Linked DNA regions of Homo sapiens: region 2 is linked to region 1. Evidence: fine-mapped expression QTL. A gene starts in region 1. The other region holds a variant in brackets. All regions are shown on one strand. Distances are from middle to middle.

Region 1 (15,934 bases):
GGGGGCTGTGGCTCCCTCCACCACATGATGGGTTCTGGGGAGGGTGGCGGTGCAGGCGGGCCTCACCTTGTCGTTGATGAGCAGCTCGATGGGGTTGTTGCCCCACTCGATCAGCACGATCTCGTTGGCCTGCCCTGGCACCGCATAGGAGAAGGGGGTGCCAATGCCTGGTGAGGCGCTGGACCGCAGCCACAGGCAGATGGTGAAGGCGTACAGCTCAGGCAGCGTCTTCTTGATCTTGCCGTATAGGTAGTTTGTGCGGAGTGGGAGGGACACCTTGAACGCATCTGGTGACTTAAAGGCGCTATTGCCTGGGGGTTGGGAGGAAGAGAGGCCAGGAGTGCGTTAGGCCACCCCACCACCCACCAGCACGGCCCAGAGCCACATCTTGCTAGACCCACAAGAAGGTCCCTCACACAGCCTTGATGGACCCTCCAGCAAGCGACCAAAGACCGCTCCACACCAGCCACTGATAAAAGGCTGAAGTCTGGCAGGATTCAGGACACAAGATGGAGTCCTTGTCCTTAGGGAGCTTACATTCAGGCAGGGAAGGTGACATGAAACCAGCAGCAGGTACGCGAGGGAAGTCCAGGCAGTGGCTCCTGCTAAGACGGGGAGTGGCCGGGGGAGGGAAGGCAGAGGATGCAGGGAAGGCCTGGAAAGACCTGCAGAAGAGAACCCCAGACACAGGTGACAGCAAGTACAGGGCCCCAAGGACGCCCAGAAAAGGAAAGAAAAGGAAGATTTTGTGGGCACTGCATGGGGCACGTTAGAGAATTTAGCTCCATCTTTTAGGACAGGAAAAGAGGCCTCTTGAAATCTAGAAGAAAAAAAGCTCTTGGATGGGTGCAGTGGCTCACACCTATAATACCAGCATTTTGGGAGGCCGAGGCAGGAGGATTGCTTGAGGCCAAGAGTTCGAGACCAGCCTGTGCAACATAGCAAGACCCTGTCTCTACAAAAAATTTAAAAAATTAGCCAAGTGCAGTGGCTCATGCCTGTAATCCCAGTGCTTTGGGAGGCTGAGGTGGGAAGACTGCTTGAGCCCAGGAGTTCAAGAACAGCCTGGGCAATACAGCAAGACTTCATCTCTACAAAAAATATAAAAATTAGCTGGGTAGGGTGGCACACACCTGTGGTTCCACCTACTCAGGAGGCTGAGGTGGATCGCTTGAGCCTAGGAGGTCCAGGCTGCAGTGAGCTATGATTGCATCACTGCACTCCCACCTGGGTGACAGAGGCTCTGTCTGGTTCCTTCTAGTTAATACTCTCTTTTCATAAGTCATATTAGGTGACTAGAAAGCTTGAGGAAGGAGCAGAAGAAAGGTAGATTTAATTTTCTTGTGTTAAGCCAGAAACTGCGTCCTTAGCCACATCTTATAACTTCAGATATTTCCTTGAAATCTTCGCAGGATCTAGGAACCCTGGAGACTTGGGCTTAGAAGAAGGAAGTCTTACAGGGACCCAGGCACCCAATAAACACTTGTCAAGTGAATGAGTCTGTGTCACTCCTCACATGAAAGAATTACCACTGCCGAGGTGAAGCAGTCAGGCTCCCGGGTCTTGACTCCATAACTTAACTCAAAAGTGGCTTTTTGGTCTAAATCCCTGACAAAAAGCACTTTGCTCTTTTCCTCCTCAAGAGAAGACTGAGTTTATTGATCATTTCCTGTAGTCTGGAGCCAGTGGGAGGCAGGGCAACCGCAGGTGTCTCTCCTCATTTAGGGGAACACACCTGGTCACAGCCTTGGCCCTTCCAGACCTTCCTGGAATTGGTGAGAATCCACCCGCCACCCCTATGTCATTGGCACTTCTAAAATCCTTGAAAACAAACTCTAGAATGGGTTTACAATATTTCCAAGGCAGCCTTGGTTGAAGTTCAAAATTAAGTAAACCACAGCGGCAGCCCTTGTCCAGGCATCGTGGATTCCAAAGTTTGCAGGACACCATTTGATTGTGCCAGCTGTCATGGCAAAGGCGGCCCTCTTATTTGAGAACCAGACCCTGCCGTTGAAGGAATCTAAACGCCCTTCACTCATTCAACAAGTGTCGGTTAAGCATCCACAAGGGCTCAGACAGTCTCCGAGGCCATCAGAGACAGGCGGGCTCTCTGGAGCCAGAACTGCCTGTGTCACTGTGGAGTTAAATCAGTCCCTACTGCACAACATGAGCCAGAATAGATAAACCTTTCTCCACCACAATCCCCCAAACTCATTGTCCCTCAGAGTGAATAATACACACGAAAGGCTCTTGGGGGCCGCAGTTCACATCTATCTAAGGAGGGTTTCTGCAAAGGGGCACAGAAGAACCCCCTATCCCCTTTCTAACCTCTCTGGAACAGGCAGTGTGTACATTCTAGAATCTGGGCTTCACGTGTTGCATGTACTCATATCTGCCAATGGTGGCCTCCCGATTGCTCCTGACCTCCTAAGGATGGGCACCTCTCGATGCCACTGCAGAGCTGCTGGGCACCTGGCGAGGGCTGGGAAGACCTGCTCCCCGAAGAAGTCAAGGGGCCAGGCCAGAGTGAAGGCTGGGACTAGTCTCTCATTAGGCTGAAAAGCAAAACTGAGAGAGAGAACCAGAGTGTCCCTACTCCCCCATTTTTGCAGGTTGCACAGTTGAGGCTCGGAGGCTCAGCGAAGTGAGGTGACGTATCCAAGGTCACACAGCTAGTGAATGACAGGCCAGGGGCCGGAAGTCCCTCTTTCCACGACACTTAGCCACTCACACTTAATCTTCAAGTGGCAAATGACCATGTCCTTAATGAAGGCATCATTGTCTAATAAAGAGAAATGGCTGCTATACTTGCGGGAGGGCAGCCTTGCCAATCTGATACGACTCCGTGTGGGTAATATTGTTAGCTTGGTGACAACAGATAGGTTTAATTAGAGCTGGAAGAGCCGAGGGGCAGAGGAGGGGGCCTGTACCCTGAGAGCCAGTGTCTTTTATTTAAATAAAACAGCTTGGCGGTTTGGAGGAAACTTGGTTAAAACCAATTAAGGAATTAAAAGGCCTGACCAATAAATCAGACACTGCAGGTGGCGGAGAGGCTCAGCAGGGGGTGGGCAGCCTGGGGCTGGAAGAGAGGCAGCTTTGGTTTTCTCAGCAGCAACATTTATTTCAACACTGAGCTGGGCAGTGCCTGGACAGCTGGCCTGGACTCTGGAGGCCCTTGCAGAGGAACAGGTCTTGCAGCAAAGAAAAGCAAGCAACCCTGGGCCCCGGGTGGCAGGGGCATCCATATGCCAGGGGTCAGGCGCTTGCTGGGGGCTCCAAGGAGCCTCCGACGCAGCAGGGCTGGGGCCCACACACCGCTCCAGGCTGCAGCCTCCATCACTCCTCTGGGGCCCCACCAACTTCACTCCCAGCTCTGCAATCTGCTGGCAATGTGAATGCAGGCATCACTTTAGTTCTCTGACTTGAGTCCCTCGTCTGAACTAATCCCTACCTTGCAAGGTCATGTCAGGGATTACAGAATGCCAAGTGTGGAACTCACAGCCAAGCATCTGGTCCCTAAGGGGTGGAGGCTGACAGACCAAAGGCCAGAGTTCCCCCACCAAGGCCCCCTGCCTGTAGTGAGGTTAAGGTCTAGCTACTCTGGGTTCAGCTGGATGTGTCTAAGAAACTTGGCATCGTTTCCAATCATAGTACATGTGGAGGGCTGGGCGTTTACTCATCTCTCTACAATTGTCACAAACAGGACACTCAGAATTGCCCAGAAGACAAACTGGTCTGCAAATGATCACTTTCCTTAAAGCACATCCCAGAGCTGAGTTGGTGGAGCTCACAGAAGGATTCTAGAGTTCCCACGGTGGGATGAAGAGAGGCTGGGCTGCCTCTCTGGGGTGCATAAATGGCCAGCAGCGTCTTTGCCCTCGTAGAGGTGAGCTTCCCCTCTGTGCCAGATGAGCTTTGAGGGCTTGCTGGGAAACTAAAGGGTCAGGAGTCAGGCTGGCGGGGTCTGAGTCCTGACTGTTTCTTTCTGGCTGGTAATGGACAGGCTGGGGATGAAAGGGACAGTCACAAAGTGGCAGCTTCTGGGTGGCCAAAGCCATGATGATGGCTTACCTTAGGAGTAAGCCCAGTGAAATGACATTGGCCTTGAGTGAGAGAAAGAGAAGGAGGAGGTGCAGGTTGATGTGACTGTCACTGTTTGCCAGCTAGTGGCCCAGGACCCACTTTGGGCCCCCTCCCCAAAAGATACATGTCCCACTGAGAACGGAGTCTTTTTCTCATCTATGAAACGGGCATACCAGGAGTCTGAGCTCCCGCCTGGCATGACTGAAGCTCTGGCTCACTATTCTGCTATTTACCCACCTCCTCATGGCAACTTGGCCACTGTGCAGAGGGAGGTTTACAGCCACCAAGGTCTCTCATGGAGCCCTCCTCTCGTTCCACAGTTCCCCTTTCGAGAGGCAAACTACCTTTAGTGTGCCAACTCCATAGCCCTGGGTGTCCCGAGGATCCACTGTGGCTCAGGCTGGGTCCACGGAGCCACGCTCACCTGTGCCTAGACGTTCCCTCCTCCTGTCATGGGAGGAGGGCCACAGCAACGGCTGCTTTACCTTCAGGGATGGCTCCTGAGGCCACCCAGCAACAGAGGGGAGACAGAAAGGAAGATTTTTTGGAAACTCAAGAATCTAACAGATCTAACAGGTAAGCCATACTCACCTTTTTCTGAGAAGGGCCAGGAAGAAAGGATAGGTTTTTCTGTAGGAAGAGACTAGGAAAGGGATGAAAGAGACCTGTGGCTTGTGGATGCTGGCTGTAAAATGGAACAGTAACACCAGCCCCTTCTCCATCTGCCCCACCTCGGCCAAAGTCATTGGATGTTCTGCTATTGGGCATCCTCCTATCAATGCATGAAACGGAGTCATGGGGAAGTGGCTTCATCAGCTTAGTGCATCTGGGAAAATTCCAGTCTTATAAACACCCACTACGGGCAAACCTACAACTTCAAACCCAAGCCACCCAGTGGTTTGGGGGTTGATGACGCAATCTGAATTATCCCCTGATCCCTCCCACTCTGTCTCCTGTGGGAGAAACTTACTCACCACAGTGTGAGCAGAGAAGAGAAAGATACACAGAATCCGCTGCCAGGACTAGTTAACAAAGGACTGAAACGCCCGTGTGGTTGCTTATCGAAGCTGGTCCTGGACACTTTCACTTTTCCCTGGATAATGCCAGTGGGGCTGGCAGCTCATTCCTGAGATGACCTTGTTCAGTCGCCTTTATTATTTGCTCACACACTCGGGAACCAGGCCCATGTGGTGTCACAATCCCTGCTGTCCATCAACCAGAATCGCATGTCTGACCACAAGTGGTGAAAATCAGGCCACTGCCAGACAGAGAAACAGGCCAGGCACACACCTCGCTCCAGCTCGGTGACCCTCTGCAGCAGCGCGTTCAGGGTGCTCTCGGTCTTCTGCCGGTGAGCCGAGGTCTCATTGTGCAGCAGGGACTTCTCGTCCTCCAGCTCTGCCACCTTGCGCAGAAGCTGCCTCTCCAGCTCCCCCAGCCGCTGCTGGAGCACCTCGCGGAAGTCGCCGGGCAGCCCAGCATTGGACACGTTTGCTCTGAGCTGGTGCTTTCAGCCACCGGGGAGGAGGGAGGGGCACAGAAAGAGTTAAAAAGAAATTGTGAAATGTGGCTGTGATGGCCCGACCACACAGGGAGAAGCTTCCAAAACGCAAGCCCTGAATCTTGCCACTGGCAGGCAGGGGAGCATCTCACTGATGCTTTTTTGGTATGGAAAAGATTTCAAAGTCAGATAAGAATTACTTTGCTGCAATATTTGAAACTTGTGAATCTAATTTTCCCTTCTCAAAAAGCCGTTTTTCTCCTCTTACTAAAAAGTCAATATTCTAACCAACGCCTAGAATTCTATGTTGGGTAGAGACCAAAACTCAGCTCCAGGATTTTTTTTCTTTTTTAAGAGTAAATCGATGGTTACACAAAGCCAAGGAGCTTTCACCTAGAAATGAAAACAGCCCCCAAGTTCCGGTCTGGCACCAAGGTAAATAACTATGCATGCAGAGATGTTTCTGGAAAATGACAGATCTAAAACGTTGCTATTCTGAACTCCAGCAATCTTTGTTTTTAATGCTGTTTCTAAATCCTCACTTCCTATTTCTCTTTCTCCCCTACCATCATGTGGTTCTGGAGGCTGTGGCAGGCTGCCTACCCATGAGTTCATGGCAAGCTATTTACCTTTCTCCACAAAGTGTTCCAAATTGTGAAATGCACATAATGGGACCTGCCTCATGCCATTCATTGTTCCAAGGATTAAAAAATTAAATGATGTGCCTGACTCATATTTAGTGCTCCAGAAATGTTAGCTGTTAGCAATCACAATGAATCAGGGGATATACAGATGCTGGAAATACTGTATTCAGCCCTCACGCCAAAAGAAACCCTAGAGTCATTTTTGCAATAATTACCACCTGTAATTTAAACCTAGTTTTGCTGAGAAGTATTTTCACAAAGGCTATTAACAGCAGTGTCCACACTTCTTAAAAAGGGTGGAGCCTAAAGATGAAAAATAATTGAAGATTTTTCTCTCAAAGTTCCAAACTGCACGCATTTTCAGAGATAGAGATGAGACGGAGGCGGGAGCGGGGGGCGGGGGGGGGGGACGGAGGGGGAGGGGGGGAGGGGGGGAGAGAGAGAGAGAGAAGGGAATGAGGTCCCTTCCCCTGAAGCAATCCGGAAGAGCACCTTAAAATGGTCCAACTTGCAGACACGGGAGTCTTTGAAGTTAACCAGAGGTTGCCCCTCTAATGCGCGCTCTGGGGTCGCCGGTGACCCCCTGCGCTCGCCTCCCTGCGACCTCCGCCCCCAGACTTCCGCCCCCTCTAGCTCAGCCTGACCTGATTTAAAGAAAGAAACACCACATGCCCGGGGCAGCTGACCTCCCGCGGCAGCCTCGCAGCAACCCGCACGGCCTGCGGGAGCGCATCCCGGCTCGCGGAGATTTGGAGATTTGCAAGAGGATAGAGGCTACCGCGTCCCCGGGTATTTGGCGCCCGCGGCTTGGCCGTCTGGGTTCGCTAGCCCGGACCTCGGGAAGTGCTCGGCGGATCCCGCTGGCAGTCCCGACGCGCGGGGGTGGAATTTAAACGTTTCCTTCCAGCAAGAGCAGCGGTGTGGGAAGGGATACCACGCAGGGGAGTTCCCGAGCAGGATCTAGATCCCCGCCTTTCACCCTCAAGTCCAGCTCACCCCCACGGACGATCACACCCTCCCCAGGGCCAGGCCCCCTTTCCCCATCCTCCCGAGTCTTCCGCCCCCGACTCGGGAGCGTCCCCATTCCAGGTCCCCCGCGCTCCCCGCGGGCCGCTACCTCGAGGCTCTCCAGGCGGTCCTTGAGGGTCTGCAGCGAGCGGCTGAGCTGCTCCACGACGTGGCCGGGGTCCCGCGGCAGGTCGCCCATAGTGTCCTTGCCCGTGGCCCCCGCGCCGCGCGCCTTGCCGCCCGCCAGCCCCTCGCAGCGCGCTAGCTTGCCCGTGAGCTCGCGGATGGCCTCGCGCTGCGCGCCCAGCGTCTCCTTCTGCTGCACGACGGTCTCGCGCAGCTGCAGCACCGCGGCCCTCAGCTCCTCCTCGGGACTCTGCGCGCCGCCCTGCATGGGCATCGCGGGCAGCGGGCAGCCGGCGTGCACCGCCTCTGGGGGCAGTGCCGTGCACACGAAGCGGCTACCGGGCGCCGGGCTGTCCTGGGCCCCAGCGGCCACGGCGAGCGCCACGCTGGCGGCCAGCAGCGCCAGCATCCCGCCGCCGCTGCCGCGCTCAGCTCGGCATGGGCGAGCGGGCGCCGTCGGGGCGCTCCGCGGGAGGCGCCTTCGCTGCTGGCAGTAGCCGCGCTGTCGTCTCGAGGGTCGCGTGCACCGCGGGGCAGAAGTCTCCTGCCGTCTCACAGCCGCACCCACCGCGCTGCTCGGCACTCTGGCCTGCCGGGTCCGCGCGCCCTTTCTTAAGCTGAGGGGCGGAGGGGGCCGGCGTGTGGGGCGCGCGCCACGAGCTCTGATTGGCTCGGCCGGGTGCGCGTCACGCAGTGGGCGGAGCGGGGCGGGGCGGGGGCGCTTTCCGTTGCGCGCCTGGCGGCCGGGCGGGAGCGTGGGCCGGAGCCTGAGGCGAGAGCGCGAGGTCCCGGGCTCTGCCTCAGGAAAGGAGGCCTGAGGTGGAAAACGACACTGGGGCTCTCGAGAGCCTCGGCTGGCCGTGCCCAGGCGCCCCTCGAACCCACCCGAGGACGCGGGCGTCACAGGCTGAGGAGAAAGTGGGAACCCCTCGGTGTCCCGGTGCCCCTTTCTCAGGGTGGCTTCTGGCGCGGCACGGGGCCTCGCTGCGCGTTTGCCGCCGCCCTCAGGGAGGCGTTTTCTCCAGCAGGAGCAGCCCCCCAGGCGGGACTCGAACCCCGACTGCCATCGCGAGCCACCCCCGCGGCAGGCGTGGGCCTTCTCGTCAAGGCCCGGCCACCTCACTCTCGAGGCGGGAAGGAGCCGCACGACGGCCGCCTCCGGATGCAACGGTCCCCGGGACGCGCTCCATGGCCCCGCCTCCACCCCCCGCGCCAACTCGGAAAACGCTCGGGAAGAATCCCGGGGGCCTCGGGGACCGGGACCAGGACCAGGCGCCGGACGCTGATGGGAAGGAGGGGACACCCGGAGTTAGGGACAAAGTCACGAGGCCACTCGCAGAGCCCTCGCGCGCGTGTTCATCGACTGCCCCCTGGGCGGTGACCTTATTCAGCAAGACCTGAGCTCAGGGGCGGGGTGACATCTAACTGGAGTCATCATGATGGAGCCACGTGGTCCAACAGTGCCCGGTCCTTGTAACCAGGAGGGCCCGCAGTGTCACCACTTCCTCGAAGTGAGGCCACTGCCCTCAGCTTCTTGGAGACAGCAGATATGAGCAGAAACCCCCAAAAGTCAGGAGCAAATTTGTTTCAGAATCTCTCCAAATCTGTGGCTTAAAACAAGTTCAGAGGGATTTTGGTGCACAGCTACAGACTGAGCTGGTTTACTGCACATTTATAAATGGAAATCTTTATTTCTTTTCCTCTCTATGTTTTTAAGAAATCCTGTTGCAAGGTCATTAATCACGTTATCCATTATACCACAAACAAATGGATTTGTCACTTGTGCGCAGAAGCCGAGGTTGATTCTGAAAGCAAATTGTACCAAAATAAATGAAATTATTATGATAATATAAACTAGACTGCAGTGATTAATCTCTAGAAACCAAATTCTGACCTGCTTTGCACTTCAAACAATAGCTTCTATTATGTAAATAGTTGTGGGGTTTTCAAGGACATTATTGCTAAATTATAAGAAAAGTTCTATTCTTGAAAATCTCTTCGTGGATAAAAATGAGAGACAGGAACCTGGTCTGCAAGGTATCCAAAGCAGAGGACAATGGAAGTAATGATGGTTCAGGTAAGAATATTCATTAGCAGAAAAAGGTATGGATGGGAGATTTGGGGTGAGTAATGGGCTCATGTTTCTGTTAGCCTGCATCCCCAGGAGGTGTCAGTTTCACCTTGTTAAGTATGACCTTGACTGGACTCATTCTTCCTACATCCTTTTTCAGCTGGATGAAAACTCGAAAAAGTTCAAATAAACCTACATATGCACAAATTACAATAATGAAGGCAACAGGGTTGCAAAGCACTTTATGCCTTGTTACATTTCAGATGATTCATAAGGCACCAAATCCAGACGTTTTCAAAATTATTCAGATAACGATGTGACTTTTCCATTTTCACTCATAGCTTTGATGTTCCTCTTTACTTGTAGACCTAGGTGGCCCTTAATTGGATGTGACAATAGAGTATTATCGTTCCTGTATTGTTCCATATATCCTTTCTTGACACACAGACTGATACATTCATATTTGCAACTACTTGAAGTAGAAGCTTGTTCCTTTAATAATTAAACAAAATCAAGTATCTTTCCAGAATTCTAATTTCCTCCTGAACAAAGAAAGCAGTGTACAAGAGTAAAAATAGCATATATCCCAATATAATTACTCCTAAACGTCTTAAAAGAGATTCCAGTATGAGAAGTGATCAGTGAAATTGCCAAAGCTCAAATGGAAAGACCCAGACATTTGAAATGTTATTTTCTTTGGAGGCAGTATAATTAGAGGCTTAGTTAACAGAGTACATGCTATTTACAGTTTTATTTTATCTTCCTGGTGCAATGAAAAGCCTGCTGGCTTAGGAATGAGGGATCTAGTGCTAATTCTAACTCTGTCACTAGCTAAGTGGTTTGGGGCAAGTCATTTCTCCTCTGGACTTCAGTTTTCTTGCATATAAGATAAGGGAGGGGCGGGGGTTGGGCACGGTGGTTCACACCTGTAATCCCAGCACTTTGGGAGCCCGAGGCAGGCAGATCACAAGGTCAAGAGATCGAGACCATCCTGGCCAACATGGTGAAACCCCGTCTCTACTAAAAATACAAAATTTAGCTGGGTGTGGTGGCGCCCGCCTGTAGTCCCAGCTACTTGGGAGGCTGAGGCAGGAGAATCGCTTGAACCCAGGAGGCAGAGGTTGCAGTGAGCCAAGATCATGCCACTGCACTCCAGCCTGGTGACAGAGCGTGACTCCATCTCAAAATAATAATAATAATTTTAAAAAGATAAGGGGATTAGACGCAACTGTCTAAAGGTGCTTTGGCTGTACTCAAGAGCATGATAGTTTGAAAAAGAAGGAATCACTGTTGGTGTGAGGAACGTTTCAGAAACTTGTTTTTTCTGTGTGTGTTATTAACCACCTGTAGCCAAAGGTGAATGTGGAAAGGCAGGGTCGTTTTGTAGTACAGCAGGTAAACCTTCATACACGGAGACGCCGTAGTTGTGGTTAAAACCTGCTTTCGACAACACGAAAGCTCATACTGGGTTTACTCACAGCACAACAACTTTGTCTACCTGAAAGATCCTGCATGTATGACTCATGCTACCCATGAGGATGGTTATGTGAGTGGCAGAGACCAGGGCCCACAGATTTTCCTCCACTTGAAAAGTCGTGCAGATCTGCAGCAGTGAATCAGCTCCACCTAATCTCTTAGTGTAACTGATGCTGCAGCATAGTAACCACCCACTCATTCACTATGTCGGCTGGTCCCAGGTCAGCTGTGAGCCCAGTATGGACTTAAACCGTGTGCTGGGAATCCTGATGAGCTCATTCCGCCTCCATTTTATTGCCCCATCTGTTTGGTTCTCTTGTTCTTCTCACATGCATTTTTATCTTGGTCTTCTGGGAAATGTGCTAATTTCCACCATGGTGTGAGAGGATCCCATCTCATACTTTCTTACATTTCCTTCTCTCTTTCTCAGTGCCACTTGGGAAGTCAAGAATGAGAGTGTGAGCTCTAACAGAATCCAAGGACAGCTTCCTGCAAACATGATTCGGGAACTGTCCTCGGTGCTGAATTTCAATTGGAAGGGGGAAATAGACGTGTGTGTGTGTGTGTGTGTGTGTGTGTGTGTAAAGTTCAGTGCAGATAAAATAGAATTTGGAAGCTCCAGAGGATCCCTACTAACACACATTTATGCTTAAAATGCTAAGACGCTTTCAAGAGTGGATTTTTTTCCCCACTAGATTGAACTGCATGGTAGTGTGGAAAGAGCTTGAGCTTTGGAGTCAGACAGCTTTAGTTTCAGTCCCAGTTTTATGACTTGCCACTTTACCTTGAGAGAATGATTTAACCTCTCCCAGCCTCAGTTTTCTCATCTCTAAAATCAAAGCTAAATTTACTACAAAATATTGTTAGGCTTGAGTGAGATAATGTAAGTGAACATGTTTGGCATATAGCCAGTGCACAATAGATGATAATTGTCCTTTTCTTCCCCTTTTCTCCACTGAATTTAGACCTGTATTATGTAAGTCCCTTTAAAAACAAAGTTGAAAAAAATTCTTCCCTTTCTGCAATATTCTTTAGAGTTAAATAAGGCAAGAATACTTAAGAAAGAACAGGCCAGCCTCCCAAGAGGAAAGACAAGGGATGAAAACTTCAGGAAAATATACTGGTGTCTCAGCAAGATAAAGATATACTACTTTGTGGGTTTTTTTTTTTTTAAAAAAAAGATAAAGCATGGTATTATTGAGCTTTAATCAGAGGATTCAGTCAAAGTGAACTGTTTCACACCTACACTTGGGATATATCACCAGACTATGTGCCTGGACCCAACTAAAAAATTTGTAATATTTAACATCTCAGTGATTCTGAATTTGTGTTGCTACGGGACCCAAATAGATATAAGCCCCTCAGATAAAGCAAAATGTTCTTGCTTCAGTGCATCTGTGTTCTTCTTGAATAACATATTTCTGGCTAAATTTTGGGAGCATGTGAGATGAGACACTGAGTTTCAGGAAGTGGTGTCCCTGTACAAGTATATTATCACATTTAGCTAGAGAGCCGTGATTTAGGGGAATTGGTTGTTCATATTACTCAACTGATTTCAACAAACCAAAAAAGGCTTTTGGTGGCATCCTCTGATTTCAAGCAATAGAACGAGTCACCGGATATACCAGGGATAATGTCTTACCTCAGTTTTTAAAAGTAAGGGATAATAGACTGGGAGTGGGAGGAGGCTGAAGGAAGGAACATCATCAACTTAGTTTGCTTTGAGAAAATCTTCTATGAATGTAGTCTCAATTTCTCTATATTAGGAAACACCAAGAAAGTGCCCCACTTTCACATAACTTACAAGTGGTGAAATTGGCCTATTTCTGATAAAGACATGTGGCTCAATATCTCTGTATGATTCAGGCACACAGGTAGCTTGTATGAATCTTTGAAAGTGAGAGTTTGAAGATATTTTATAGAATTTTGAAGACTAGGAAACAGTTTGAGAAAGGTTAAAATGTCATATGGCAGCTAGATAGGAAGACTAGGTTCTGGTGTTCTACAGCACTGTAGGGTGAGTATAGCTAACAATAGTTTATTATATATTCTCAAATAGCTAGAAGAGAGGATTTTGAATGTACCCAACACAAAGAAATGATAAATGTTTGAGGTGATTGATATGCTAATTACCCTGATTTGATCATTATACATTGTATGCATGCATTGAAATATCACTCTGTGTCCTATAGATATGTACAATTATTACATGTCAATTAAAATTATGTTAAAGTAAAGACTTCCCCTCCCCACAAAATAAGTTCAAAACCATGCTAAAAAGATCATAGGGCTACTTAACAGCAGGGCCATGCTGGAACTCAGGCCCTCTGGTTTCCAGTAAGGGCTCTTTTCTCTGTATCACTCCCTAACATACTCATTAACCTATTAGAATGCTTGGTTTCTTCTTCAATAACTGCTTTCTTAAAAATCAATAATTTGCCATTAATTTCAATGTCCCCTTTTCTGTCATTCTCCTGGAACTCATCAGCATTGAACACTGTTGGCTAAGTCTTTTTTATTAGAATTTTCCAACATTGGTTTCTATGATATTGTATTCTTCTGGTTTTCTTCTTTGATTTCTGAACATTTTTTCCTTTCTTTCTTCTTTTCTGGACCTTCTTTCATTACCTGCCTCCTCAACACACATATTCAAAGTTGAACTGTCCATAGCTCTCTCCTTTCTCTCACTGTACTCTCTACCTTAACAGTTTGAAGTTTTTAAGTTATATTAATGATTCTGTCTTAGTTCATTTTCTGCTTCTATGACAGAATACCACAGGCTCAGTAACTTGTAAATAAAAGAAGTTTATTTGGCTCATAGTTCTGGAGGCTGGCAAGTCCAAGAGCATGGTGCTGGTATCTGGTCCATAGTGGAAAGGTGGAGGGCAGAAGCAAGTGCATATATCTGAGAACTACCAAGGGCTGGGCTTGCTTTTATAACCACCCACTCTAGTGATAATTGACCCACTCCTAAGATGATTGCAATAGTCCATTCATGAGGGCTCCCTCCTCATGACCCAGTTAATCCATACTTGGTCCCACCTCCCAAAACTGTTGCTTTGGGGGTTAAGTTTTTAACACATTAACTTTTTAAATTTTAACTTTAAGTTCTGATATACATGTGCCAGATGTGCAGGTTTGTTACATAGGTAAACGTAATACAGGAATTTTGAGGGACACAAACCGTAGCAGAAACTATCTATACTGAGTTCCAGATTATAATAAACCAACCGCATGTTGGACATCTCAAAGATAAACTACCCATACTTCTAACTCAATATGTCAGGTAAATTTATTGTTCTCTTTATTTTCCCTCTATTCTTCCTCCTGTTTCCTATTTCTTATGTCATTAATGCTTTCCAAGTCATTCAAATTCAAAACTTTGGAGACATCTGTATCTCCTCCACCCCCAATTTTATTCAAATTCTAGTGCATTTCTAAGTCCTAATTCTGCTTGTACAATATGCCAACTCTATTCTCACTGCTACAATCTCATTACTTCTGTTCTAAACTATACAGTTGCCTCTAACTGAACGATTCAGCTCTACAATGTCCATTTCAGCTTGTACATTCTATTGCCAGGTCAGTTTTCCTGAAGTACAGCACTAAAGCATTGATCTGCACTGCTCAGAAACCTTCATTATTTCTCTATGCAAATGTGTAAACTCTTTAGTCTCCATCATTTTTCCCCACACCCACCTATTCATTCCAATTTTTACTATATCCCTTGATCTACCCTCACTCCAAAGTAAACTTATGCTTTTCACAAATGACCCATATTTTTCATCCTCTGGCATTGGGACTCAGGTTGTTTCCCATATCTGGAGACAGATCTGGAATGATCTTTCTTGCATGTCTAGGACCACAAGACCCACTCTCATCCTTCACGGCTCTGCTTACACACTACCCCCTCCACAAAGCTTACCCTGATTTTGCTCAGTTTGAAATGACACAATAACGTTCTTTATTTCTCTTAGTACTTTAAGCCCTGCATTATAATTATCTTTTCTACTGGATTATGAGCTCTTTAATGGCAACATCTAGGTCTGATGTACTTCCTTCTTTCAATAAATATCTCTTGGATGTCATTGTACACAGCCATAATAGCATTGTGGGAAAGAAATGAAGGTTTTGCTCAACATGTAATCAATCCATTCTGCAACTTTGTAAGAACAAAGTTAGAATAGCAGGGGACATTTTCACGGAGGAGTTGGAAATTAAATTAGCCCTTGAAAAGGGTAATGGAGGATATGGTAGATAGGAAGTGCTGGGTATCTGGAAGAGGGGGCAAAAGAAGGGAAAGTTGAAGCCATTGGAGAAAAACAAGATATGTAGTTAATAATCTCTGACTTTCAGCCCTCTGTTCCAAATTGGTTCTCTGTTTCCAAGGATACCTTAGGATAAATTTATCTAATTTCCAGCAGCTATCACTCACCTACCATCGTGAGGAAGGACAGGGCCATTATTTTAGACAGGTGACCAAAACATCTACTTGCAAGAATGAACAAAGTGAGTAGTAACAATGTTCAGTTTTTAATTGAGCAAAGGGAAGTGGGAATTTGAGTCTGAAATGTCTACACATTCCAGACTTCCTGAAATTCTTCCATCTGGATTCCCAGATGGAAGTGTCACAGAAATGGTGGGGAGATGTTTAGCTGGTTTTTTTTTTTTTTTTTCCAGGCTCTATAACACCACTTGGTAGGGGTTAAAGTGAAATTATAGAGGAACAGACCTCTCTCCCAGCACTATTACAGGTTTTGAGATCGAGAAGCAACTAAAATTAGAGGGTCAGAGCCAAGACAAGTTCTCCAATGGTATATTCTCAACAGATTAGGTTCAGTGCAGCTTTGAGCTTTCAGCTAAAATTCTTATTGGCCCTTTCATCTCATTTAATCATTTATTCTCCCTAGAATCCTGATGTTCACACCCGGGATAGCCTTCTCTTAGCTGAATGAAAAGTGCAAAAAGACTGCATATTTGAGACTTCTATCAGAAAGGAATTGTACCATTACCAGCCTCCATCAG
Region 2 (15,934 bases), 200 kb before region 1:
TGTCTGGGTACATTTATTTTTCTTTTTTGTAGAGATGGGTGGGGGAGGGTCTCACTATGTTGCCCAGGCTGGTCTTGAACTCTTGGCCTCAAATGATCCTTCTGCCTTGGCCTCCCAAAGCACTGGGATTATAGGCATGAGCCATTATGCCAGGCCCTCTGGGTTGTTTCTGGGAGGATGGAGGGATCCAGTGTCTTAGGGGAGGAAGTTGAGGGCCACCTGGAGCAGGGCTGGAAGGGGGCATAGTCCTTGCTGATGGGGAAGATTACGTTAGAGATGGGGGTGGGGAGTGGGGGAGGGGGTTAGCAACCCCCTGATGGGCCATTCTGATGAAAAGTGGAGTGTTAAGACCAGGTCCTGAGGGGGTAGGAGAAGGGGTCAGGGACAGCTCTCAGAGGCAGGATTGGCTGAGGGACGTCCAGGGCCAGGTGGCCTTGTTTCAGTTTAAAGGTGTCCAGGGCTGTGCTGGAGCCCGGAAAAAGCCGCCTACAGGCAGCGTTGAGTCCCTGAAGCTCTGTGGATGTGACGTCTGGCCGAGAAGGACGGCTGGCACAGGGCACTCCCTGTAGCAGGGCAGATGGAGAATTCAGCGAGAGCCAGAACTGAGTGCCAGATGGGCCTGGAGCCGTGTCAGCCTGCTGAGAATCCCCGGAGAGCCGACGGGCACCAAGCCCAGTGTTGTTGAAATGTGGCAGGACAAGGTGACCCCAGATGGCCGGCAGGCTTGAGGGTGAGGAAGAGGCTGGCAGATGGGCCAATGGTGGGAGAAAGTCTGTGCTGTGATTTCAGCTGGGTTCCCCAAACTCGCCCCCGTGCTTGCACACGGCCAGCAGGTACGCACACCTGTGTAGGTGTGCACACCACGGTGCGACCGCAGACACGCAGACACCTGGGGCGGCAGGCCTGCCTCCGCCTCCAGCTCTCACCACCGACATCCTCTGTTCCTAGAGGTGTGTTGTCCTAGAAATCCCTTTGCCGTTCGAGGATTTCTTGGATGCTGCGGCCAATTTTCATTCCTGCCACGAAGCTTCTCCGCAGACCCTGCCAGGAACATCTCTTTTTCATTTATTTCGGGCACAGGAGAAGCAGCAAGAGGAAGAACCCTGCAGACGTCTCCGTGGTATTTTCATCAACACGGCAGCCTCCTGAGCACGTACACCCTGAAGCCAGGGCCTGGCTCCAAAGAGCGGTGGGACCAGAGCCCCTCGCGGGGAGGCAGGGAAGCTGTGTGGAGGGGAGCACACCTCCCTCCCTCCCTCTCTCCTTCCCTCCCTCCCAGATCTGGCCCTTAGCACCTGCCTGACTCCCATGTCTTCTGTCCTGTGGGGGCAGGGGCCATGACTGGGTGCTCCACCTTTGTAGCTCCAGTGCCTAGGATGGAACCTGGCCCACTGGGTTGTGTTAGTTCAGGTCCTTTGGAATCAGAAGTCAAGAGAGATTTTATTTGGGGAATCACCTATATAGTGAATTAAATAATGTCCTTCTCAAAAGTTTATGTCCACCCAGATCTCAGAATGTAACTATTTGGAAACAGGGTTGTATTAATCCATTCTTCCCCCTACTTTTTTTTTTTTTTTTTTTTTTTTTTTTGAGATGGAATCTTGCTCTGTCACCCAGGCTGGAGTGCGATGGCGCCAACTCGGCTCACTGCAAGCCCTGCCTCCTGGGTTCAAGGGATTCCCTGCCTCAGCCTCCCAAGTAGCTGGGACTACAGGCACCCCCACCACACCCGGCTAGTTTTTTGTATTTTTAGTAGAGACAGGAGTTCACCATCTTGGCCAGGCTGGTCTTGAACTCCTGACCTCGTGATCCACCCACCTCGGCCTCCCAAAGTGCTGGGATTACAGGCATGAGCCACCACGCCTGGCCTGTATTAGTCCATTTTGTTTTGCTATATGGGAATACTTGAGGTTGGGTCATTTATGAAGAAAAGAGGTTTATTTGGCTCACGGCTCTGTGGGTTGTGCAAGCACAGCACTGGTGTCTGCTTCTTGTAAGAACCTCAGGAAGCCTCCAATCATGGCAGAAGGCAAAGTGGGAGCAGCCAGGTCACATGGCGAGAGAGGGAACAAGAGAGTGAGGAGGAGGTGCCAGGCTCTTTTTACCAATCAGATCTCACAGTAATTAATAGAGCAAGAATTCACTCATGACCATAGGGTGGGCACCAAGCCATTCATGAGGAACCCACTCCCACGACCCAAACACCTCCCACCAGGCCCCACCTTCAACATGGGGAATCATGTTTCAACATGAGATTTGGAGGTGACAAACATCCAAACTATACAACGGTCTGTGCAGGTATAATTAGTTAAGAATCTCAAGGTGAAATTATCTTGGATTTAGGGAAGACTCTAAGACCAATGACAGGTGTCCTTAGAAGAAGAGCTTAGAACACTGACATGCACAGAGAACAAAGCCATATGACAAGACAGACAGGGATTGGAGCAATGGGTCAACAAGCCAAAGAACACAAGGATTTGCCAGCAGTCACTAGAAGCTAGAAGAGACAGCCAGGCATGGTGGTGGCACATGCTTGTAGTCCCAGCTACTCGGGAGGCTGAGGCAGGAGAATCTCTGGAACCTGGGAGGCGGAGGTTGCAGTGAGCCGAGATTACACCAAGATTGCACTCCAGCCTGGACATCAAAGCGAGTCTCCATCTCAAAAAATAAAATAAAATAAAATAAATTTAAAAATAGGCCAGGCACGGTGGCTCACGCCTGTGATCCCAGCATTCTGGGAGGCCGAGGCGGGTGGATCACCAGGTCAGGAGATCGAGACCATCCAGGCTAACATGGTGAAACCCCGTCTCTACTAAAAATACAAAAAAACAAAATTAGCCGGGCATGGTGGCGGGCACCTGTAGTCCCAGCTACTCGGGAGGCTGAGGCAGGAGAAAGGCATGAACCCGGGAGGTGGAGCTTGCAGTGAGCCGAGATCACGCCATTGCTCTCCAGCCTGGGCGACAGAGTGAGACTCTGTCTCAAAAAAAAAAAAAAAAAAAATCAGCGCAGGGAAAGGATGCAGGGGGCAGAGTCCAGGAGGATTCAGCACATGGAGTTTCCAGTTGTCCCGTCCTTTGGAGTCATGGCTAGCATTCCCAACAATGATGCGTGACGACGTGCATGGAGTATTGCTAACCAGGGCAGCTCACCTGAGCCTTGGTGTCCAGTTTTTACTGGGGCTTGGTCATATAGACATGGCTGATGCCTGATGTGGCTGACAATCCCCATCCCCTCTGGAGGTCAAGCTGATGCTGTGTAGCCCAAAGCCTCCACCATAAGTCATGTACGTTGTTAGATTGCATAGCCCCAGGCCCCCAGGTAAACGAAGACATTCTTACCAGACAGGATGTTCTAAGGGCTTAGAGCTCACCTCCCGGGAGCTGGTGGTAAAAGCCATACCACTCTTTGGATAAAGTTAATTCTTTTTTTATTTTTATTTTTTATTTTAATTAATTAATTAATTTTTGACACAGAGTCTCGCTCTGTCACCCAGGTTGGAGTGCAGTGGTGCAATCTTGGCTCACTGCAGCCTCCACCTCCCAGGCTTAAGCAATCCTCCCACCTCAGTCTCCTGAGTAGCTGGGATTACAGGCACCCGTGACCACGCCCGGCTAATCTTTGTATTTTTAGTACAGACAGGGTTTCACCCTGTTGACCAGGTTGGTCTCGAACTCCTGGCCTCAAGTGATCCACCTGCCTCGGCCTCCCAAAGTGCTGGGATTACAGGCGTGAGCCACCGTGCCTGGCCATCTTTTATTTTTATTTTTAAATTAATTGTTTATTTTTTGAGATGGAGTCTCACTCTGTCACCCAGGCTGGAGTACAGTGGTGTGATCAGAGCTCACTGCAGCCTCCAACTCCTGGGCTCAAGCAATCCTCCTGCCTCAGCCTCCTGGGTAGCTGGGACTACAGGTCCACCACCATGTCTGACTGATTTTTAAATTTTTTTTGTAGTGATGATATCTTGCTATGTTGCCTAGGCTGGTCTCAAACTCCTGGCCTCAAGTAATCCTCCCACCTTGGCCTCCCAAAATGCTGGGATTCCAGGCGTAAGCCACTGCACCTGGCCTAGGATAAGGTTAATTCTTTACTACACACAAGTCAAGGGACCTCAAACAAGATACTAAAACCTCTCAGCACCTCAGTGTCCACATCTGCAAAATGGGCATGTGAGCACCTTCCTTCTAGTATTGTCAGGAGGGGGATTATGCAAAAGAGCATCTAGGAAAGGTTCCAGTCCAGGGCCTGCCATACAGCAGGCACTCAATGCACTCTTTTTTTTTTTAACGGAGCCTCATTCCGTCGCACAGGCAGGAGTGCAGTGGTGCAATCTCGGTTCACTGCAATCTCTGCCTCCCGGGTTCAAGCGATTCTTGTGCCTCAGCCTCTTGACTAGCTGGGATTACAGCCGCCCACCACCACACCTGGCTTATTTTTGTATTTTTAGTAGAGACATATTTTTGTGATGTTGGCCAGGCTGGTCTTGAACTCCTGACCTCAGGTGATCTGCCCGCCTCGGCCTCCCAAAGTGCTGGGATTACAGGCATGAGACACCACACCCGGCCAATAAACTCTTGTTCAATGAACGAATGAAGGAAGGTAGGGAAGCCCCCAGCCTGGCCCCTTACACAGGCTAGTCCTTTGGAAGGGAAGGCGGCCCCTGGAGAGCAGTGCTGGCTCAGCCTGCTGCCTGATTCACAGGTGACTCATCCCCAGCTTTAGGACAAGATCTAAGGGGCCTTGGCTGGGTGCGGGGTTCTTAAAAGGTGAGCTGACGTCCCAGTTGCAGAGTAAGAACTGAGCTCATTACGTGTGGCCTTTTTGATGAATTATAAAAAGCCTGAGCCTCATGCTGAGAACGCAGAGAAGGGATGTGAGGCCACCAGCAGATGTATACATTTTATTTCTGAAGTGAGAGGAATTCTGGCTTTACTGGGAGAAGTAAACTTTGTGCAGAATGACTGAGCAGGCTGAGGGCTGAGAGGTGCCATGCCACAGTCAGGGCCCCGTCAAGGAGAAGGCAGTGGGGCCAGGTGTCATTGTGCCTTTTAGGAGACAAGTCCAGGGCTGTGTCATCTGCTGGCAGTGAGAAGTCAGCTCTGAGCTCCTCCCCGAAGGTGGTTTTTCCTTTTTCTACTTTGAGAAATGTGCTGGCAGGCATGGATTTTTTTTTTTTTTTCTAGACGGAGTCTCGCTCTGTCACCCAGGCTGGAGTGCAGTGGCATGATCTCAGCTCACTGCAACCTCTGCCTCTCGGGTTCAAGTGATTCTCCTGCCTCAGCCTCCTGAGTAGCTGGGATTACAGGCACGTGCCACCACGCCCGGCTAATTTTTGTGTTTTTAGTAGAGACAGGGTTTTGCCACATTGGCCAGGCTGGTCTCGAACTCCTGACCTCAGGTGCTCTGCCTGCCTCAGCCTCCCAAAGTGCTGGGATTACAGGCGTGAGCCAGCTTGCCCAGCAGGATTCAAAGATTTTCTATTTGTGATTGGTTAAGGAGGCAAGGCTTTGTCTAAAAAATTGTGGACAGGGCCTGACATGGTGGCTCATGCCTATAATCCCAGCACTTTGGGAGGCCGAGGTGGGCAGATCACTTGAGGTCAGGAATTCAAGACCAGCCTAGCCAACGCAGCGAAACCCCATCTCTACTAAAAATACAAAAATTAGCCGGGCGTAGTGGCACGCACCCATAATCCCAACTACTCAGGAGGCTGAGGCAGGAGAATCACTCAAACCCAAGAGGTGGAGGTTGCAGTGAGCCGAGATCACGCCACTGCACCCCAGCCTGGGTGACAGAGCGAGACTCCATCTCAACAACAACAACAAAAAAGAAAATTGGGGAGAGTAGAAAAGAATGTTAGCTCTGGTCTGTGGGTATGACCTTCTCCAGGCCCCTCAGGAAGAAATTTAGAACAAAGAACTGTCAGAGTTCAGTGCTCAGTTCCCCCTTATCTGAGGTCTACCTGCCAGCAGCAGGTCCATTTGGCAGGAGCCCAGGTTTCTGAAAAACTCAAGGACATCTTTGGTTCCCATCAGGAACTAAACATCTTGTGATTTCCTTGGCTATTGCTTTAAGCTACTATTACCTTTTTGGTTATCAAGTTGCTCATTTACTGCTCAGGACTAGCTAGGTGCCTGAACTTTCCCTTGAAGGAACTCAAGATTTTCCTTTATTTCCATGCTTGGAGGGGGAGGGTGCCCACCAGGCCCCTAATAGGGCCTCTGCTTTATCGCATCTTCAGGGAGGGCTTTCTAGTGGGCCCGTAGCCAGGAGGACAGGTCCTCCACGACCCACCCTCAAAGTCCATGCCTGGCCTGGCATGTTAGCTCATGCCTGTAATCCCAGCACTGTGGGAGGCTGAGGCGGGCAGATCACCTGAGGTCAGGAGTTCAAGACCAGCCTGGCCAACATGGCAAAACCCCGTCTCTACTAAAAATACAAAAATTAGCCGGGTGTGGTGGCACATGCCTTTTAATCCCAAGAATTGCTTGAGCCCGGGAGGTGGAGGTTGTAGTGAGCCGAGACTGCGCTACTGCACTTCAGCCTGGGCAACAGAGCAAGACTCTGTCTCAAAAAAAAAAAAAAAAAAAAAGTGAAGGTTGCCAATAGGATTTGTGAATAGATTGAAGGTGAGGTTTGAGAAAACATGAGAGAGGTCGAGAGGTCGAGAGGTCCAGGGTCTCCCTGAGGTTTGGCCTGAGACACCAGAAAAGTGGAGTTGCCATCAACAGAGATGGGAAGGCTGGAATGAGGAGGTGCGAGGGAACAAAGCTGGAAGACCAGTGGGTCCACAGGTGCCTATGGGGAGACGTTTCAGGAAATAGGAAGAGGAAGTGGAAGATCCAGTGATCACCACCACCCACTGCCCACTACCATCCTTCTCTGAGCTTGTCTTGTTACCAAACCAAATTGAGATCCTCTCACCCAGCACAGTAACGCTAAACATCCACACCACAGTTTGCAGTGGGAGAAGTGAAGGCATTCATTGCGGGGCTCCAAGCAAGGAGAGGGAGGTTACAGTCAAAGCTGTCAATCAATACATGGAAGTTATACCTTGGTTTCACCTAAAAAGGTGAGACATCTCAAAGCAGGAGCCCACAGGCCATAGGAGGATTCAAAGATCTTCTTTTTTTTTGTTTTTTCTTTTTTGAGCTGGAGTCTCACTCTGTCACCCATGCTGGAGTGCAGTGACGCGATCTCAGCTCACTGCAACATCCGGCTCCCAGGTTCAAGTGATTCTCCTGCCTCAGCTTCCTGAGTAGCTGGGATTACAGGCCCACCACCACGGCTGGCTAATTTTTGTATTTTTAGTAGAGATGGGGTTTCATCATGTTGGCCAGGCTGGTCTCAAACTCCTGACCTCAGGTGATCCGGCAGCCTTGGCCTCCCAAAGTGCTGGGATTCCAGGCGTGAGCCACCACGCCCAGCCAACCTTCACAATTTATCCAGAATCTACTCATTTTTTTCCACCTCTACTGCTCTCACCTGGTCTGAGTCATCACCATCTCTTGCCTGAATGATTGCTGTTGTTTCTGCCCTTGTGCTCACCGTCTAGTTTCAGCACAGCAGCCTATTAAGACCTAGGTTGATTAGGCCACACCCCTGCCCCAAATCCTCCAGGTCTCCCAGTCTCACTTAAGGTCCCTGACCTGCTCCTGTCCGACTCCTTGACTTCACTGCTTGTTCACTGTGGCAAGGGGACCTTATAGGCAGCAGGGGGTCCAGAATGTGGGAAGTCCTGTCATGCTAGAGATGCCCATCCTGAAATCAGACGCCAGAGTAGGGATCTGGGCTTGAGGTACAAGGTGGTGTGGGATATAATGAGGTTTCTCGTCAAATAATCTGATCAATCTTTTATCCTTTATCCATAGTACCCGCCCCCCCCCCCACCTTTTTCTCCTTTTTTTCCTTTTTGCCTTTGTTAGATGTCCAGGCAGGCCACAGTACCAGGCGTTATCAGTACCAGCTCACATTCCTTTCCTTATTTGGAAAGAAGACTAACTTTCTTTTCTTTTTTTTTTTTTTTTTTTTGAGATGGAGTCTCGCTGTCGCCCAGGCTGGAGTGCAGTGGCGCGATCTCGGCTCACTGCAAGCTCCGCCTCCCGGGTTCACGCCATTCTCCTGCTTCAGCCTCCTGAGTAGCTGGGACTACAGGCGCCTGC[A/C]ACCACACCCACCCGGCTAATTTTTTTCTATTTTTAGTAGAGACGGGGTTTCACTGTGTTAGCCAGGATGGTGTCGATCTCCTGACCTCGTGATCCGCTCGCCTCGGCCTCCCAAAGTGCTGGAATTACAGAGTGAGCCGCCGCGCCCGGCCAAAAAAGACTAACTTTCCAGATCATTACAGACACCTCTTCCCCTTCCTGTCCACTTTCTTTTACGTGCCCACCTTATCCAGAAAAAAAAAAAAAATCAAATGTCTAGTCAACCGGGATTAGTTTAGATTGTACGACCCAACCCCGGCCAATGGCAAAAGGGTGCAGGGGCAGGACTTGCCTCAGGAATAAAGGCTCTCGTGCCCCTTTGTTCAGGTGCGCTCTCGTGGCGACTGGCCAAGGAGGCACCCCTCTGCACAAAAGCAAAATTGCTTTGCTAAGGATCCTTTGTTCGAGTGTTCAATTTCCTTAAGATTTTGAGCGTTATTCCTAACAGTGGGACTCCACTCCGGAGGCGGGGCTCAAACACCACACCAAATTGAGGACTAGCTAAAAAAGGACTTCGGTGGAAGCAGCTTTCCATAAGACACGCCCACCAGTGTGCTATGTCAGTTTACCATTGCTGTGGCAACGCTCAGAAGTTACCGCTCCTGGCCGGGCGCGGTGGCTCACGCCTGTAATCCCAGCACTTTGGGAGGCCGAGGCGGGCGGATCACGAGGTCAGGAGATCGAGACCATCTTGGCTAACACGGTGAAACCCTGTCTCTAATAAAAAAATACAAAAAGATTAGCTGGGCGTGGTGGCGGGCACTTGTAGTCCCAGCTACTCAGGAGGCTGAGGCAGGACAATGGCGTGAATCCAGGAGGCAGAGCTTGCAGTGAGCCGAGTTCGCGCCACTGCACTCCAGCCTGGGCGACAGAGCAAGACTCCATCTCAAAAAAAAAAAAAAAAAGAAGTTACCGCTCCTTTCCGTGGCAATGACCCAATGATCCACAAGTTAGCACCCTTTTCCTAGAAATTTCTGCATAAACTGCTCCTTAATTTGCCTATAATTAAACGTGGGTGGTATAAATATGACTGCGGAATTGCCTCCAGGCTGCTGCTCTGGGTTCACCGCCTAAGGGTAGCCCTGCTTTGCAAGGAGCAATACCTCTGCTGCTGGCTGTGCACTGCCACTTTAATAAAAGTTGTTGTCTAGGCCAGGTGCAGTGGCTCATGTCTGTAATCCCAGTACTTTGGGAGGCTGAGGCTGGCGGATCACCTGAGGTCAGGAGTTCGAGACCAGCCTGGCCATGGTGAAACCCTGTCTCTACTAAAAATACAAAAATTAGCCAGGCGTGGTGGTGCACGCCTGTAGTCCCAGCCACTTGGGAGGCTGAGGCAGAAGAATTGCTTGAACCTGGGAGGTGAAGGTTGCAGTGAGCTGAGATCACACTACTGCACTCCAGCCTGGGCAACAGAGTGAGACTCCACCTCAAAAAAAAAAAAAAAAAAGTTGCTGTCTAACACCAGCGACTTGCCCTCGAATTCTTTCCTGAAGGAAGCCATGAACTATCCCAGACTAAGCCCCAATTTGGGGGCTTTCCTGTACTGCATTAGGCTCAGGAGGTGAGCAGGCTCCACCACTGCCAGTGCAGGAAACTCCCTATGAATAACTAGAGATCTTCCCATGGGAAATATAACACCACCATCTTGTTTCATGATGGCAGCCAGAAGCCCAAAGAAAACCCTCCCTGAATATGCATGCATGTGTGCACACACACACAGACACACACAAACACACACACACAGAGACATACACACACAGACATACACACACAGACACAGACACACAGACACACACACATACACAGACACACAGACACACACAGACACAGACACAGACATACACACACAGAGAGACACACACACACACACACATACAGACACACACAGACATACACACACAGACATACACACAGACACGCAGACACACACAGACACACACACAGACATACACACATAGACATGGACACACAGACAACACACACAGACACACACAGACACACACACACAAACACACCCACATACCCACAGACAGACAGACACACACAGACATACACAGAGACACACACACAGACACACACACACACACACTCACTGACTCCATTCGGCTCTAGGTCTTTAAATGAGATTTGATTCATTTAATCCTTACAATGACCCAGGAGACAGGTTACTACTATTATTTCCAGATGTGTGGGGTTTTATTATATTCTTTTTTGCAACATTGCAATTATTGTCAACAACAGTTCATTATTTGAAAATTCTTCCTGGGACAGGCAGACAAATGTGAAACCCAAGACAGTTGGGATGGAACAGAACTCCTGGTTTGTTTGGTGAATAGGAGCTCGGTAGGAATGAGCTTGGAAGAGTTGATGTCTCATTCTTTTTACTCCAGTTGAGTGTGGTGTGGAACCATTGGCAACTCTACAAGCCCTAACATTTGGCCATCGTGGGAGACTATGTTAATTCTAATACTAAAGCCAATGTGAGTTCTGTTCCCACCATGTACCAGGCCCCTTGAGGAATGCTTTGTTCACCCTGTCAATAACCCAGCATCATGGAGGGTGGGGACTTCATTGTACAAATGAGGAGACTGAGGCTCAGAGAGGCTAAGTAACTTGCTCCTCAGCAAAGCTGTGTAGCCAGCTCCAATCCCGGGAGATTCACTTTGATCTCTGTTTCCACTGGTCTCCACGAGGGCCTTCTATCCATGGCAGAGAAGACATGCAAACTCATGGGTAAGTCAGGGATGTTTCCTACCTCTCTCTGTGCCTGGTGAGAGGCACAGACTCTCTTCTCTGGGACTCTTGGCTGCTTAGCAACTCTCACTGTGTCTGGCCTCTTGTTCTCTTCTCATTTATACTTTTCACCAACTGCCAAGCCCTGTGCTCCCAGAGCCGCCTGTCATAATATTCCGGCAGCCTGGCCACCCCTTATCCAGACTCTCCAGGCTGTACCCAGGGACTGGTTTCCAAAAATACACATTGGCTTCAGCACGAGGCTGAAGGGCAGGGCAGCCGGGAATTGGGGGGGCTGGCACTGCAAGAGAGTCAGCCAGTAGCACTCTGGGATGGAAAATTTTACCCAAACTCATGGGGATATGGCAAGGATCAACTCTAGACTCTGGGGCTTATGAATGAGAATGGGCATCTTTGACATCAGGCATCCCAGTGTCTCACCTGCAACCTCTATTGGGCCTGAGCGGTGATGAGGAGGCTCTTTGCCATTGTGTAGGCACATCTGTGCATGGGGCCATAAAACCTAACGCATTTGCCTGCTGAGAAGACATTTTAATAAGGGCCACTGTGCACCGTTTTCAAGACAGGCTTCTCTGATGAATAGCTTAGATGAGCCTAATAAAGTTATAGGTGAATGGAAATTAGGTCTTTAATAGGTCCAGTGGCAGCTGGGGATTGTTCACATTGCCTTGTTTTATGAGATCAGGATAGAACATCCCCACCCCGGCCTTTCATTCCTTCAATCCCACCTTGGAGCAAAGGTCCTCATGGCTGAGACCTGTTCTGTTAACCTCTCCCAATCCTCTGATCTTCCATCTCCTATCTATCTATCTGTCTGTCTGTCTGTCTGTCTATCTATCTATCATCTATCTCTGTCTGTCTCTATCATCTATCTATCTATCTCTGTCTGTCTCTATCTATCTATCATCTATCTCTGTCTCTATTATCTATCTATCATCTATCATCTGTCTCTGTCTATCATCTATCTTTCTGCCTGCCCATCTTATCTATTTATCTATCTATCATCTATCATCTGTCTGCCTGCCTTATCTATCTATGTATCTATCTATCTATCATCTGTCTTTCTGCCTGCCTGCCTGTTTTCTACCTATCTATCTATCTATCTAATATCTGTCTCTATTATCTATCTATCTATCTATCTATCTATCTATCTATCTGTATCTTTTGTTAAAGACTGGGTCTTCCTTTGTCGCCCAGGCTGGAGTGCAGTGGTCTAACCACAGGTCACTGCAGCCTTGAACTCCTGGGCTCAAGTGATCCTCCTGCCTCAGCTTCCCAAGTAGCTGGAACCACAGGCATGTGTTACCATGCCTGGCTAATTTTTTTTTTAATTTATTTTTCGTAGAGAACTGAGTCTTTCTATGTTGCCCAGGCTGTTCAAACTCTTGACCTCAAGCAATCCCTCAGCCTTGGCCTCCCAAAGTGTTGGGATTACAGGCATGAGCCACCGTGCCTGGCCATCCATATCTTTTTGGACCAGATGGGCCAAGGGAGGTGTAGGTTGTCCCAGTCTGCCTCCGACCTGGGTAGAACAGAGACCTAGCTTTGCACCCACAGCATCTACTAGTGGTAACCAAACCAGGAATGAGACAAGAGTGGGCCTGCCTAGTGCAAAGGAGGGGCAAATCTGCATCTGTGAGAGCTGATTCCACTTGACAAATTTGTCCTGAGTTGGACTCAAACTTGTCTGGGGACAAACTTGTCCCCCATGTTCCTGGCTGGGCCACACATTCCAAGACAGACACTTGGGGAAAAGACACAGGACTGATGGACACAGCGAGGCAAGAGGGTGAGGGTTCCATTGTGGACTTCAGAGCCACAACCATCACCACCATCAGGTGACAGCTCCGAGGCAGGTCCAAGAGGATCTCCAGCACCAATATGGAAGACGCCATCTGTTTTCAAAAAGCTCCCAGTGCAACGTTGATCCCAGCTGGGCTTTCCATATTACAATCCAGCCCCTCCATGCTCTCTTCATCCTCCTCCATGCCTCCTTCTTCCACAGAAGGCAGGCCTGGGTCATGCACTATGTTTGCAAATGTCCTGGACAGTGGAGCCTCTTGCACCATCATGGAGTCCCCTTCAGTGGCTGCTGTCTGCACTGTGTCCCCCAAGTAGCACACGAAGTTTATTGCACGTGGAGATTCATCAGATCCCAGGCAGCTCTGAAGAAGGATGGGTGTCTGTGTGTATGCTGAGGGGTTGCTCCAAGCCATAGATCCAGTAAGTCGCACAATCAGAGTTGGGAACTCAAGTTTTCCGCCCTCTGCATCCCTTCCCCAACATTGCTGCACATCACGTCTTGGAATAATTTTTTCTTTTTTTTGAAATGGAGTCTCTCTGTGTCACCCAGGCTGGAGTGCAGTGGCACGATATCGGCTTACTGCAGCCTCTGCCTCCTGGGTTCAAGCAATTCTCCTGCCTCAGCCTCCCGAGTAGCTAGAATTAGAGGCATGCGCCACCATGCCCGGCTAATTTTTGTATTTTTAGTATAGACAGGGTTTCATCAGATAGGCCAGGCTGGTTTTGAACTCCTGACCTCAAGTGATCTGCCCACCTCGGCCTCCCAAAGTGCTGGGATTACAGGCGTGAGCCACCGCACCCAGACTGGAATAAGTTTGTTTTGATGATAGGAGCCCTGTTGCTGCCTTCAGGAATTTATACATCCTTTGAGTCATAGCATAGAAATCTGTGGTGTTGGGTGGCATTGTGGCTGTTTACTGTCTTTTGAAGACCCATACACATTTTGTGTAAATTAGGATAAAGAATAGTGGTGGAAATTTTTCCTAAAATGAAGGTCACTACAAACAACTTTTCCGAGTGCAAATGTCCACAGGGCTTCGCTTCTCCCAAAGGCAGAGGGTTTCAAAGCTTCTTCAACTGTGATGTAAGATGGTCAGGATGAATGAACGTCACAATGAATCAAAGCTCTCAGTAGCGATGTCTCAGCCTGTCACATTCATTTCTCAAGTTCATCTGATTGTCATTCTCATAACTGCTGCTGGCTCAGGCAAGCTGCAGTATTCATCCATCCTCCAGGAACGCATGCTGGGGACTCTGGTTTTGAGGATGAGTTAGACGTGGAGTTCACAGCCAAGGGTGGGAGGAAGAGGTGACACGAACTCAGATACTCTGGGCCTGGGAACTCAGGACCCAGGATGAGGAGTACAGCCAGGAGGGGACCTGGGCAGCACAGAGCAGAGAGATGAAACCTACAGGGGGATCTGGGTTGAGCAGGAGGTGACTTGGCAAAGGCTGCTCAGAAGGGCAACATTGGATATTCTCTCCACTCATTGAAAATGGATCATTTAGATTTGACCTTGGAACCCTCTATGAAGAGACAGTCTGCCAAGCAAGTGATTGGTAGAGACAAGGTTGCAGGGAGAAGGTTCATAAATTACATATTTGTATTTCACCAGTGTAGCTAAAACTGGATGCAATTTCCTCCTTTCTCCATTTTTTTGGCTTAATGAATATCAATCATTCAATATATATATTTTATATATTTTATATATATATACAGACAAACGTGTCATACTGACTAAGATTCATTAAGCCTATATATGATATATAATTGATATATACATGATACATACAATGATATATACATTGATATATGTACATGATATATACAATGTCTATATCACTGCCTATACATATATATAGGCAATGAAAGACAGGGCATTTGGGAGGCCCTGTGTATATGTATACTATATATATATATAGCCTATACAGGTATGCATATACATACATACAAACATATATACATATATAGGCTATATATATACACACACACATACATACATAATTTTTAGAGATGAGATCTCGCTCTGTTGCTCAGGCTGGAGTGCGGTGGCCCACTCATAGCTCACTGCAGCCTTGAATTCTTGGGCTCAAGCGATCCTCTGCCTTAGTTTACTGAGTAGCTGGGACTGCAGGCGTACACCACCACACCTGGCTAATTTTAAAATTTTTTTGGAGAGGTGGGGTCTCACTATGTTGCCCAGGATTGGTCTTGAACTCCTGGAGTTAAGCGATCCTCCTACCCTGGCTTTCCAAAGTGTTGGGATTACAGGCATGAGCCACCGTGCCTAGCTGAAATCTTTATACTATATGTTCTACCTCTTAAGAATAAATGTGGGCTGGGTGTGGTGGCTCACGCCTGTAATCCCAGCACTTTGGGAGGCCGAGGTGGGAGGATCACAAGGTCAGGAGATCAAGACCATCCTGGCTAACACAGTGAAACCCTGTCTCTACTAAAAATACAAAAATTAGCCGGGCTTGGTGGCGGGCGCCTGTAGTCCCAGCTACCTGGGAGGCTGAGGCAGGAGAATGGTGTGAACCCGAGAGGTGGAGCTTGCAGTGAGCCGAGGTTGCGCCACTGCACTCCATCCAGCCTGGGCGACAGAGCGAGACTCTGTCTCAAAAAAAAAAAAAAAAAAAGAAAAAGAAAAAGAAAGAACAAATGTGGCCGGGCATGGTGGCTCATGCCTGTAATTCCAGAACTTTGGGAAGCCGAGGTGGGCAGATTGTTTGAGGCCAGGAGTTCAACACCAGCCTGGACAACATGGTGAAAACCTGTCTCTACTAAAAATACAAAAATTAGCTGGGCGTGGTGGCACGAACCTGTAATCCCACCTACTCTGGAGGCCGAGGCAGGAGAATCGCTTGAACCCAGGAGGTGGAGGTTGCAGTGAGCTGACATTGAGCCACTGTACTCCAGCCTGGGCAACAGAGCAGGACTCCATCTCAAAAATAAATAAATAAATAAATGTACATTGAATCTTAATGTTTAAAAAATCAGTTTTCAAATACCATCAGGAATTTTTGAAGCAGATAAATCAAGCTGGCCAGGGAGTGGGTCAGCAATGACCAGGAGGCAGCACAGCAGCCCTGACTGCCCAGCAGAATCCCCTGGACTTCGCCAAAACCTCAGTGCTGCAGCCACCACCACCAACACCACCATTACCAACCAC

Alleles and levels. Positions count from the first base shown, and alleles are read on the strand shown. Sizes are in standard deviations (SD) of each study's normalised expression.
With allele C in place of A in region 2, the expression in aorta of the gene that starts at base 7,948 in region 1 is lower (large effect, 1.1 SD a copy in GTEx).

What was found. PIP is the estimated chance that this variant, and not a neighbour inherited with it, causes the effect.
Region 2: its variant is fine-mapped to the expression of NPTX2 in aorta (GTEx, PIP above 0.99).

The regions. Positions count from the first base shown.
Region 1 is chr7:98,609,299-98,625,232 of GRCh38, reverse strand. NPTX2 (neuronal pentraxin 2) reads right to left here and starts at 7,948. Exons shown (of 5, transcript NM_002523.3): 1 at 7,346-7,948; 2 at 5,374-5,590; 3 at 67-311. The coding sequence starts at 7,771. RefSeq lists an enhancer at 6,494-7,120.
Region 2 is chr7:98,811,606-98,827,539 of GRCh38, reverse strand. No RefSeq gene overlaps it. Among named protein-coding and RNA genes, the nearest start is that of TMEM130, 50 kb to the left of the region's middle. RefSeq lists an enhancer at 823-1,398. The variant A/C (reference allele first, on the strand shown) is at 8,166.